Homo sapiens: one gene and its partner. The protein of the gene in region 1 interacts with the protein of each later gene in a pairwise test. Each region holds a gene or a part of one and is shown on either strand. Other genes may lie near its edges.

Region 1 (6,999 bases):
ATATTTTCAGTAGCAGAAAAATTCCTTTAAATATCCTTGAGGTCTTCTCAACTCAGCTATTGTCCAAGCCCTAAACCCTTAAGTCTACGTACAACCAATGGTGAAGTGTAGACGGTTTGAATGTACAGATGCCTTTCAAAGGGAATCCAGAATGCTCCTCCGGCATTCCTGTTTAAAGAGCAGTGACAAAAAAGAAAATGCTAACTTGGAAAATACCTGTGAGCAGACATGAGCGCAATTCCAGCCCCTCAGAAGTGGACTGCATAAGGTCAAATGCAACCAAATGAAATGTTTATATTAATTTCATTATTCTGCCCAAGCCTCACAGATGAGGGCTTGTGGGGTGGGGAGGTAGGGAAGAGGAAGAAATAAGTTTCATTTTGGGTCTTCTGGTAGAGCAAAAAGAAAATGAATTAAGACGAAAGCATAGGATGAGCCCAGACTAAATCAATACACTTTGTAATCAGCCCAGCAAGGGTATTTGGATACAATGACTTGGAAATAATTAATAGTTATAAGAGGGGAGTGGGGTGAGAAGGGGGGCGAGGATGTCACCATATTTTATCGGAGCACTTTACACTCCACGCTAAACTTTGATCTCCAGATTTTCAGATTTAGGAAAGAAAGAGGGGAAAAGGGTGGAGGGGAGGAAGTCCAGTATTTCGAAGCACCTACCGGCCTGAGGATGGGCACATTCCTCGCTCCCGGTGCCTTATCGCTAGGCTCGCGCCACCCCGGCTGGCTCTTTGGGGACGGAGAACCCCTAGTGCCGCCTGGGGCTCTCCGGTGTCCCTGGACCCCGCGCCCGCGGCCGCCTCGACTTACCCGCGGAGTCCGGGGAGGGAGTAGGAGCGCCGCCTTCACGCCCGCGGAGGAGGCGCCGGCAGCACCATGGTCCCCGGCGCCGCTGCCGCTGCCCCCGGCCCGCTCGCTCGCTCGCCGCGCGCTCTCTTCCTCTTACAAACTTTCGGGTTCTGCAGTCGACAAGAAACCGGGGCGACCCTCAGCAAGTCTTCCCCGTGCAGGCTGGGGGGAACTGAAGGGGACGGGACGGGTGAGTAGGCCGAGGGGCCAGGACAGAGAGGGCAGCGGGCTCCGAGGACCCGCGAGTGCGCGTGGAGGGAAGAGAGGATGCGGCTCAGGGAATCCCTGCAAGGATCCAGAGACCGGGAAATCGGCCCGAGCCAAAGTCTCAGCACCTTCCCCAGGATCTCACAAAGTTGCAACAACAAAAAGGAGGGGGGAGGAATAGGGAGAAGGGGGTGGGATGGGGATACGATCACGGGCGCAAGGTTTGGAGTTACAACTGTTTATTTAGTCCTTATTCTCACAGGGGGCGGGAGCTGCGCGGGAATGGGGGGCTGCAGGCAGCGATTTCGAAGCAAACACATGGGAGGGGGGCATGCGACTTTGTTTCCGGGAGCGGAGCTCCCCAGAGCCCGTGTGTGTCACTGCCAGTCTCCCGGGACCAAGGCGGAGCTCACAACAGGTGGGGAGGGGGGCTCGTCGAGGGCCAAAAAGAAGAAGGAATCTAAGTTTCCGAGCGCGACGTTGTCTGAAAAGGAGGGAGGCGGGAGGCGGGGGCGAGGGAAGGCGGAGGCAGCAAATGACCGCGACCCCGCGGCAACTGGCAAACTCCTCGGCTCCCGGCGCCGCCGCCACCGCCGTGGTCCCCACTCGAAGCGCACGCCGCCTCGGCTCGCTGGCTCCAGGGAGTCGTCTCGGCGGGACAGGAATAGAGCGCAGGGAGCTCGGGAGGAAGGCTGCGCGCAAGCGAGGGACGGAGAGCCATCGGCCGCCAGGACAGGGCCGGAGGGACGAGGCGACACGCGCGCGACGCAGGACAAATCGGAGCTTGGGAAATCTCCCCGTCCCCCAAGCTTCAGAGGGGGGTAAAATCAGAAAATGTGTGTGATGGTGGGAGAGAGATCCGGGCGCGGCGACTCCTCGCAGCGCATCCGGCTCCCGCACCCACCCGTGGATCTGGCCACGGCTGTTGCGGACTCGTCTCGGGAAAGCGGAGGCCGAGCGCGCGTAGGGGTGCGTGTCTGGCTGGGGGTGCGCAGGTGCGTGTTTGAATTTTCCGGGCTCCGAGGGGGTGGCGGGAGAGCTTCCTCGCCGCTGACTCTCGGGGTAACGCGCGCGTGGCAGCGGGGAAGTTCCCCAGTGCGGGGCCCAGGGCCAGGCACCACAGTCAGTTTGCTGGGGCCCGCGGGGCAGCTCAAGGGCACCGAGGGGGCACACACCCGCGGGGAAAGAAGGGGAAAAGTTTGCTCCAAGTCTAAACTTTGGGCCTAGGAGGCGCCCGGCGCGCGCCCCCTCCCGCCGCGGCCAGGACCCGGGACCCCGCACCGGCCCCGCGCCCGGGCGGCCACCGGACGCCAACGCCGGACATCGAAAGTTGCGCCAGGCGGCCTGGGCTTATTGATTTCTCTCCCCTAGGCGATCGTGGAGAGCGCAGAGAGAGGCGTGAAGGGGCCTACGGGCAGGCGATCTCGCCTCCTCACAGTCGCCACCGCCCCCGCCCCCATTTGACTTATGCAAATAAACCCAAAGGGTGCGGGCGCCGCCGGAGCTCCCTCCACCCGCGCGCCGGCCCGCAGCCCCCACCCATCCCAGAGCTGGGCCTCGACCCGGGGGGGAGAGGAAGAGAGGGGAGGGCTGGGGGAGATGCACGTGGAGCCTGGAGGTGGAAAGTAGTTGTTTTTTTTTTTCCATTTTTTTTCTCTTTTTCTTTCTTTCTTTTTTTTTTTTTGTGCTGGTTGTTGTTGTTGTTTAAAGTGGCGGAAACAAGACAGGAGGCGGCTTGGGAAAAAGTGGAGCAGAAATGGAAAAATACAAACTCACCCGCTGCAAATGGTCTCTCGGTGCAAACTAAGGTGTTTTCGGGCCTTTCCCCGCGCGCGCCCACTCCCGCCCGCGCGCGCACCCCGCGCACACACTCACTCGCGCACACACGCGCGCACACACGCACTCCCGGGCGAGGGCCGGGCCGCCGCGAGTACAGCGTGCAACCGCCACACAATAAATAACAATAGATTCCTCCGCTCCGGACTAGCTTCCCGGAGCCCAGCCAGCGCCGGTGGCGGCGGCGGCGGCGGCAGAGGCGCGGGCAGCACCGGCCCGGGGGCGCACCCCGGCCCGACCCTCTACCTCCCGCAGGGGTCCCCTCTCCGCTTCACGCACCCCGCTGGGCACTCCAGCGGCCCCCCGAGCGGGAGCGGCTCCCTCTTTGCCGTTCGCCGGGGCGCTGGCGCCCACCCCCCTCCTCCCTCCCCCCTCCCCCCCGACATCCCGGAACAAATAAATAAATAAGGCGCGCGAGAGAGGCCAACACGTCGCGGAGGGAGATGTTGTTATTTTTTGCTGTTGTGCGTCCCTGACGTCACATCCACCTGCTGGGTAAACAACCGGGCTCCCAGAAAAAAAAAATCGCAATTGCCAAAGAATGGGGGGGGGGGTTGGGGGGAGGGATCCAGGGAGGGGGAAGTGAGGGGCGTCCAGGCAGGATTGGAAAGAGGAGAGGGAGGCAGAGCCCCGCGGACCAGAGAGAGGAAGGGAACGCCAGAGCAGTCCCTGGCAACAGAGGGATCTGGCAGGAAAGACCTGGAAAATAAGGGGCAGGGGGGCGGAGGGGGAGATTCCTCAGGAGATGGGAAATGGGGGGCCCATTCAGACAGCGGAAAAAACGAGAAGGGAGAGTGTTAACTAGGGACGAAGATGGGAATGCGATGGCTATTTGCTTGGATTCTGAGCTAAAAATATGAAAGGGAGGGGAGAGGACAGGCTAGAATGTGAGTTTCCTCCAGTTAAAAGTGAAAGTGTTTTGCCATCAGTGACAGTTGAAGGAGAGCGGGGTGGGAGGTGGTGTTTTCAACCCCCTTTCTCCCTCTCTCCCGTCCTCCCTCGGTCTCTCCTCTTTCTTTCTGCACTTTGTCCAATGAAAGAAGGCGAGTTCGGGAGGTGAAAGTTCAGCAGAAGGACAAACCCCTGTTTGCAAGGAAACAGAAACCCCGCCAGCCAGCGAGGGGTTTTCTCCCCTGTTTCTCGGAATCAGGAGAGTGTGAATGTGGGACGAGCTTCTGCCCCCTTGTCAGAGCCACTGCAGGAATGTGCAATCGAGTCCACTTTGGGGGAAGGTGGCTGCATCAGGAACTGTGTTCTTGCCACGACTCCTCTTAGGAAAACGCCTGGGGGCTAGCATGTCAGTCCGTTGTTTAACACAAATTACCTGCTCTCCCAGTGATCAGTCACGTGCAAAAAGCTTTGTCCAATTCTTTGAAAAGGTGAGATTTTTTTTTTTCTTTTTGCGGTTTTTGAAGTTTGGTTGAATTTAGAAATTCGAAGGAATAAACTAAGAGCCTGAATTAAATGTTTTGAAATATACATACATAAAACAAAAGACACTAGTATTTCTTTCACTTTTATCAATACGCATAGAGAAGGAAGCAGAGTATGTGTTTCCAAAACGTGACTTGGAAAGCTGTAAGACCTCTATGTCTTGTTGTTGTTGTTGTTGTTGTTGTTAACAGAAGTAAATTTTTTCAGACCCACCACCACAGAAGTGGCCAGACTCCCAAACCAGCATTTCCAGCTACTGGCTGGCTGGTGTACACCAGGCCAATTCTTTATGAGAATATATTAAAAGTCACCCCTGTGGATTCCTACAAAGTACTTCCCCTTGCGGGGAGGGGAGAGGCTTACTGTCCCTTTGGTCTTGAGACCAGCACAGTTGTAGATAATATCCTGAAAAGGTTATTATTAAATTCTTTCGCGTAATGCCCCTTTACAAATATTGTTAAACATTAATTTACAGAAGAACTTAAATCTTAATTTCAAGGGTGGCATAAGACTATCGCTTTGAAATTGTATCTTTCGCAAGTTAAAAAAAAAAAATAACAAAGCCATTCGCTGATGCTACAGAATAAAAGAAAGGGAGGCTGCTAAGGTAATTTCAGCCTGGTAGAATTCACATTGCATGCATGCTGCATAAAGTTCCATGCTATCCAGATAAGACTATTCACTGAATCTTTTAGACTAGAATCTAGACCAATAAAATGCATTTTAGTTTGTATGGAATGTCCTAGCTTCCTAGAGGCTAGGGTTCGACGTCTTGTTTGTCAAGACATAAAGGGATTAATGACATACCCACTGTGTGCTAGACCACAGAGTGGGCACAGAGGGATGAAAAAATAAAAATTCCTGCCCTTGAGGAGCTCACAGTCTAAGCTGTCAATAATAACATCTAACATTTATTAAATACTATGATCTAGGCACTGAACTAAAAGCTTTATGTCAACTCAGTTAATACTGCCAACAACTCTTTGACATCACTGGAAATTCCATATGCTGAATTCACACGGAATTAAGTGGAAATCTACAAAGTAGCCAGTCTACTGGTTCTGTAGTGGTCAACCTATTAAAAATGGTTTTTAATTTCTAAAGTACTTTATGCCAAATATAACATGTTTATGGTATATGCCTGACTGTAGAATTATAACTCAGGGGAATAACGACTTATTTAAATGTAACAGATCTATTCATAGTCTGTAAAGAACAATTCATCCTCTGATCTTGTTTTTCAGATTAAGCAGTGTGTTTATTAAAAATTATTATCATCGCAATACTAAAAAGATCTTTAGATTGCTGCTAATCTGATTCTGCATTTTAACTGCCTTAAATTCTACATTCACTTGCAAGTGGGGGCCACAGTCAGGTTGGCAACAAGTTTTGCAGACAAAAGGAAATCCTGGTTGTAAATCCCATGATATATTGTACTCAATTTTGTATGATACTGTCTAATGTGCTGTGCTGCCTTATTAAAGAACTCGATGTCCATTTGGTTTACATTAGAGGGAAACTTAACTGCAGCTTAACATATTGTTCATTTTCAACACTGTCACGTTACATTCGTGGGGGGCAGATTTTAATTTCTTTATCAGTAATCAACTGGAAGTTTCTTTTTGTTAAATTAAAGCAAGAAAGGTTTTAAAATAAAGGGCATGGGGGTAGGACGCCACCTTTTGGTGATAAAACAAATAGAAATCCCTTCTGAAAACAGATGTTCCTGACATAATTTTATTTTTAATTACACCAAGGCAAAGGTGCTTGTCCCCATTTCGTTATATTTTAAGTAACAGGAGAAAAAAAAAACCAATGTAAATGCAAAATTAGCAAATTATAGTTAACTGCAGCCAAAATTTTCCCAAACGTATCAGAATATGTTAGTCCCCTGTCACATTACTGTTGATTGTATACACCAAACATGAGCTTCATTCACCAAATACCATGTCACTAAATATATGTACATTTGGGGAACAGAAACTGGAGTGGACATTTACCACCTGACGACGTACCTGAATGCTCTTGTAAGTTTTGAGTTGAACAAAAACTAAAACCACTTAATTTAGTGTTTCTTTAACCACAGTTACTGGTGTCCTGATTTTTGCCATATCTATATGACATAACAGTTCCCGAATAATTAATATACCATACTCATTGGAGGCCACTTATTATGGTAATTGTAGCAAACATTTTCATTTAAATCAACCTTCTTTTAATTTTTTTCTATTACTGCCTTAAATGGGAAATCAGTATCACCCACCATAAATTAAAAACAAGCACAGTAAAAACAAAGTCACTGATTTCTCTTTGAGGGTCAAAACAAAAATTAAAAATGATTTTTGAAAAAAGGAGGGAGAGTGGCAAATGTTGAGAAGGGTTAAGGACAAGAGTATCAATGGAAATTTTTGAATTTTTGTTTTTTCTCTCTCTTTTTTTCTGTTTTTTTTTTTTTTTTTTTTTTAACAACCAGAAGGATTTAAAGTGATCGGAAAGGAATACAGTTCTCAATGTGTGATTCAGTGTTATGCCATCCTAGTGCCAAGGTTCCTACACTTTAAAAAACATGGGCATAACTAAGAATATCGCATTACAGATGAGGAATCTAAGGCCCAGGGATTTCATTTGCCCTCCAAGGCAAAATAAATTTGGTTACTG
Region 2 (4,702 bases), on another chromosome or scaffold:
CTCTTTACTTCTCTCCACCTTCTCCATCTCTCTACTTTAAAGATGGAAGTCTGTGCATGAGGGGAAAGAGGGAAAAAGAGCCTGTTTTTAACTTCCTTGCTATCCACCACAAAATAAGCAATTATTTTCTTTAGAGGACTTTATCTATTGCACACCACACTACATCTTTGAGCAAGTGCCAAATTTGTACTGAAGTGTTGACCAAGTTCATTTTTTCTCTTTACTTTTTCCTTTTCCTTCTTAAGTTAGGACAGTGTTAAATCTTAGACAATCCCTTGAAAAACCTGAAATACCAGCAGCTGGTGAGATTTGACTTTTTTTTTTAATGGAAACTGTAGGTGCTGTTCTCAGGTGAAAAGAGAGAGAGAGAGAGAGACATAAGAAATTTAGAGAAAAATATTTTCTGATCTTGGATTTTTGTGTGTATGTATGTATGTGATTATGGTACTAATAATAGGAATAACGTTGGACCATTGTGAGTTAAACCCACATCTGGGGATGAAATCCCACATCCTCCCAAGTGACTGGTCTAGAAATAATCTTGACCTTGACTTTGCACTTCAAATGACAACTTAACCAAGTATAGGGCTCAGAAATTATATTTTTAAATGTCTGATTATTATTGGATGGATCAGGTGGCCCTGTGTAATAGAGGTGTGCATGTATAACATGGAAGCTACTAGCAAACTGCTCCCAGATGTCCTTTCTCCCTGGTCAGTTGGTTCCATTAACGTTTGCTACTTAGTGATTTTTGTTTTTCCTGTTGATATTTTGAGCAAAACAATCATTGTTTTCATTGAATATATTTGGCCATTTTTTCAGACAAATAGAATTAGCTTATTTCTTCAACATTCCATCCTTTCCCGATCAGGAAATGAAACTGATGATTTTATAAGGTATTTTTCACCCCTCCATGAAGTGAGGTGGAGGCCTTTAGCATTTCAGAAGTGTGGGCCATATGTAGTTCATGCCATAAAAAGTAGGATTTAATTAAAAGTCATTGCAGCCCAATAAAATGGAGCCTGGCTGCACCCAGGGATCCTTGCCACTGCTCTTCCCTTGCTGTCAGATTAATCCACTGAAGTCCAACTTTGGTTCAAGCAGAGTATTTGCAAAGAGCAACAACTGAATGTGATGGGACTGCTTATGTAGATTTTGCCAGCCAAATGCCAAGGCAGTTGTAGGGCCTGTACAAATAAATGCAAAATCATTTCAAGTCAATTGCCATTATTTGTATTGAAGTATCAGATAGATAGTAAATACTGCAACTAGTAGCTTGATGTGCTATAGTTTTCACTCCAGTCATCATTTTCCTATCTCACCCCCCGAAACACCACCCTAAAGTTGGATTTTTACATATAAATAAAAAAAGAATCCCTTTTATTTTTCTCTCTCTCAGAAGACTTGCTCTGGGGTTTTGCTTGGAGGAGCTGATCATATCCTGCATGTCAGAGATTTCATTTTGTTTGTTTTTCTGTTTGTTTGTTTTTGATGACTTTATTTACATTTGAACTGCCTCTTTTTGCTAGTGTTGTAATGATGATGATGATAAAATAATAATAATAATAGTAATAATAATAATAATGGTCAGCTGTTCCCAGATTAGTAAGTTATGTATAATTTATTTTATTTCTCCCTTTCTATTTTATTCTGCTCTGATTTGGAAGTGCAGCCAATAAGCTGTTAGATATTTAAAACAAATTTCCATCTCCAACTCATATATGTATGTATATGTATATATATATATACATATATATACACACATATACACACACACACACACATTTACCCACAATTTTACTTCTCTTTCCGTAAGTTTTCTCTTTTTTAAGAATTTTGGCCCCAACAATATCAGTTCTGATGTTTAAAACAAAGGAGTGAATTAATAGGAGGGTCGTGTTCAATCTTAATTAACTTATGCTCTCATCACTCATTTTAGTTATTTAATTGCCACAGTCATCTAGAGCCAATTTTTTTTTGTTTTTGTTTGTTTTGTTTTTAAGCACTCTGGATAAGGAAAAAATAGACACTTGTTTTTATATCATTTTTATGTACAATGTGAAAACAGATTTTTAAAAAATTTGTTCTCTGTCTTTGTTAACAAATTCCTTCCGATTTATGTGGGTTCACCTCTCACGTTTGCTGGATACTTACTTTACACCATGTTATGAAAGATGCTTTGTTTTCATTTCATGAGTTTGGGCTACAAGAATACTTTGTTTTAGCTCCAGGTAGATGCCATTGAAGGCATTCATGGCTGAAATCAATTCTAACACACTTACCGATGAATTGACAACACTTTGGTGTTTGGTCTTTTTTTTGTTATATTTTGTTTTATTTGAAGGGGAAAACAAAATTGTTAATGGTGACTTTTAACTGCTGAAATTCAAAATTTGATTTTAGTTAGGTTTATGTCCGAGACTAAACTGTGCATGAACCGAAACAAAAAGCAAGTTCATACCGCTGCATTCTGTTCTCTTGTTCTGACGGTTAATTCACTGGACATCAAATTTTCTTTGCCCTAGTTTTCCCCAAAAGAAAACAAAAGCAAAAATAGTTATATTAATGTTGAAAGTGCTTTGAAGTCACTTGATAAAAGGTGCTATGAATAGCAACTTACTGTGTTACTACATTGCCTTTTTGGCATTGGTTGATTTATAATTTTGGTAAAGGATCCTAAAACCCTGTATTCTTTTTCTGTGCCCCATAATGACCAAAAAAGATAAAGAAAATGAGAGTAAGATCAAAAGATCAAACTAAAACATAAACAGTCTCCTTCCTGTCTGCTTTCTTACCTATCTGTTCACACTTTATCTCTTTCCCTTTCTCTCTCTCTCTCACATGCGCGCGCGCGCGCGCGCACACACACACACACACACACTTGCCCCAACACTGAGAAATAATCTTGCCAGAATTCTGGTTTTTATAGTTGTTGTAGTCCGTTTCTCTAAAAATAGTCCTGTTTTCATATGAATCTAAGAGAACATTACCGGAGAAAATAAAGTTACTCATTTATAGTTACTAATAATAAGTTAGTGATTAACTTACCACAATTGGATAAAATATAAAACTATTCTTCAGCACATTTATACCTAAATTAGTGAAGTCCATTTGTGAAGTTCATTTGGCATCTGCAGTTAAGAGTTAACCATGTATAAAATCCCTCCCAAAGAACATAATCATCGTTAGAACCAAATCCTCTTATAAAGAACAAATATAAAAAAGTTTTCTGTGGTGAAGCTATTTTATAGATTTGATTTCCGGAGTAGAATTTTACCTTAATTCACTTAAAGAAAATTAACCATTTTTTGGTCCAACTTCAGATATTTTCTTAATCCAGAAGCTGTGACTGTTCCCAGAAGAAACCTCTTATATCACATTTAAAACATAAAAAATAATTACACTTTCACTCATTCTAATGGGTAAATTGTTGAATTGTAATAAACAACTGTATATTTACAAACAGGTTTATAAGGTATTTGTCTATCAAATTAATAATAAAATAAAACTTACGGGGTCTGCAAGGAAAACTATGAAGGCCACTTAAAGTGGTTCAGGTATCCCTTTGTCTTGTAGGGCATAGCTGTTGGTTTAGCCAGGCTTTTACAGTATTTAATTTTAAAGTATCCTATAACTATCAACTTCCCAGGTTGAAGACGATGTGTTGAGTTTCCTACTGATTGATTGATTCCTGTCCTCCCCAGTGTTTCCGTCACTGGTTCACTAAAACAGTATTTATATAGCTCCACTGGCTCTAAAGCTCTTAGTCCTTCTAATATTTTGGATTTTACAAGTAAAAATGGAAAAAAAATAGAAAAGAGACAATCAAATGCCTGGAGCTTAAAACAAAGTATGTGCAACCTACCATCTCACTTGAAATTTAATAAAATAATAAGTAATTATGTAAATATAACATAGAGTTATAGATTTATATTTTGTTCATAACACATAGTGTAATATAAGTTGTATATTTTCATGTTTTTGGTTTTATGTTATCATTCATGCCACAATAAAAATAAAACAGGAGTTTATGTGCTCTTAAAAAAAAGATGTGGGTTGCCACCAACCTGTTTTTCGTTTTTGTTTTTTGTTTATTTTATTTTATTTTTTTGCATTCTCCTTTTTCAGTATTACTGCCATGCAAGGCACCAATAAAAACAGCAAATGTGTTCTTTACTTATTATACTGTGTTTCTTTTCACAATTATTGTTATGAGGGTGTAATTAGTTTTATTATGAAAAGAACAAAAGTATGGAAATTTAATTTTGTTTTTAATATAAATAATCCCTCTTATTGAAGTTGACTTTAAGAACTAAAGGTTTAATTTTTAGCTGTGGACATTCCCAGAAAGACAGTCAGGACTTGATATAATGCATTTCACTCAGACAGATCTAGCTTCACCATACTGTCAAAAGATACTGTTCTTATATGTAATTGATTCAACACAATTGAAAACCCAACAGTCTAAAGCACCTTTAATATTGTTGTTTTCCCTGGCTGGACACTATCCTTGGGTGGGGGATGGGGGGTTTCTATGCTTTAGAATTGTGCTTTATCCTTTCGTTTGTATAGAAGATTTATAAATTTCAGATCATGAAATTACTAAGAACTATGAATAATTTTCACCTCGCTGGTATCTCATTTTGAATAATGGATATTTCTGAATTGTTTAACATTAGCCTCTCAGTTCTACCTTAAACTT

What was found. The genes of interacting proteins can lie anywhere in the genome.
Region 2: the proteins of FOXP1 (region 1) and SOX5 come close enough for resonance energy transfer, tested with the Homo sapiens proteins (one study listed by BioGRID).

What each region holds. Positions count from the first base shown.
Region 1 is NC_000003.12:71,580,724-71,587,722, forward strand, and holds the start of FOXP1 (forkhead box protein P1), read right to left. Parts: upstream 3,006-6,999; 5' UTR 2,848-3,005; intron 975-2,847; 5' UTR 826-974; intron 1-825. UniProt on the Homo sapiens protein: Transcriptional repressor. Can act with CTBP1 to synergistically repress transcription but CTPBP1 is not essential. Plays an important role in the specification and differentiation of lung epithelium.
Region 2 is NC_000012.12:23,528,978-23,533,679, reverse strand, and holds the end of SOX5 (transcription factor SOX-5), read left to right. Parts: 3' UTR 1-4,176; downstream 4,177-4,702.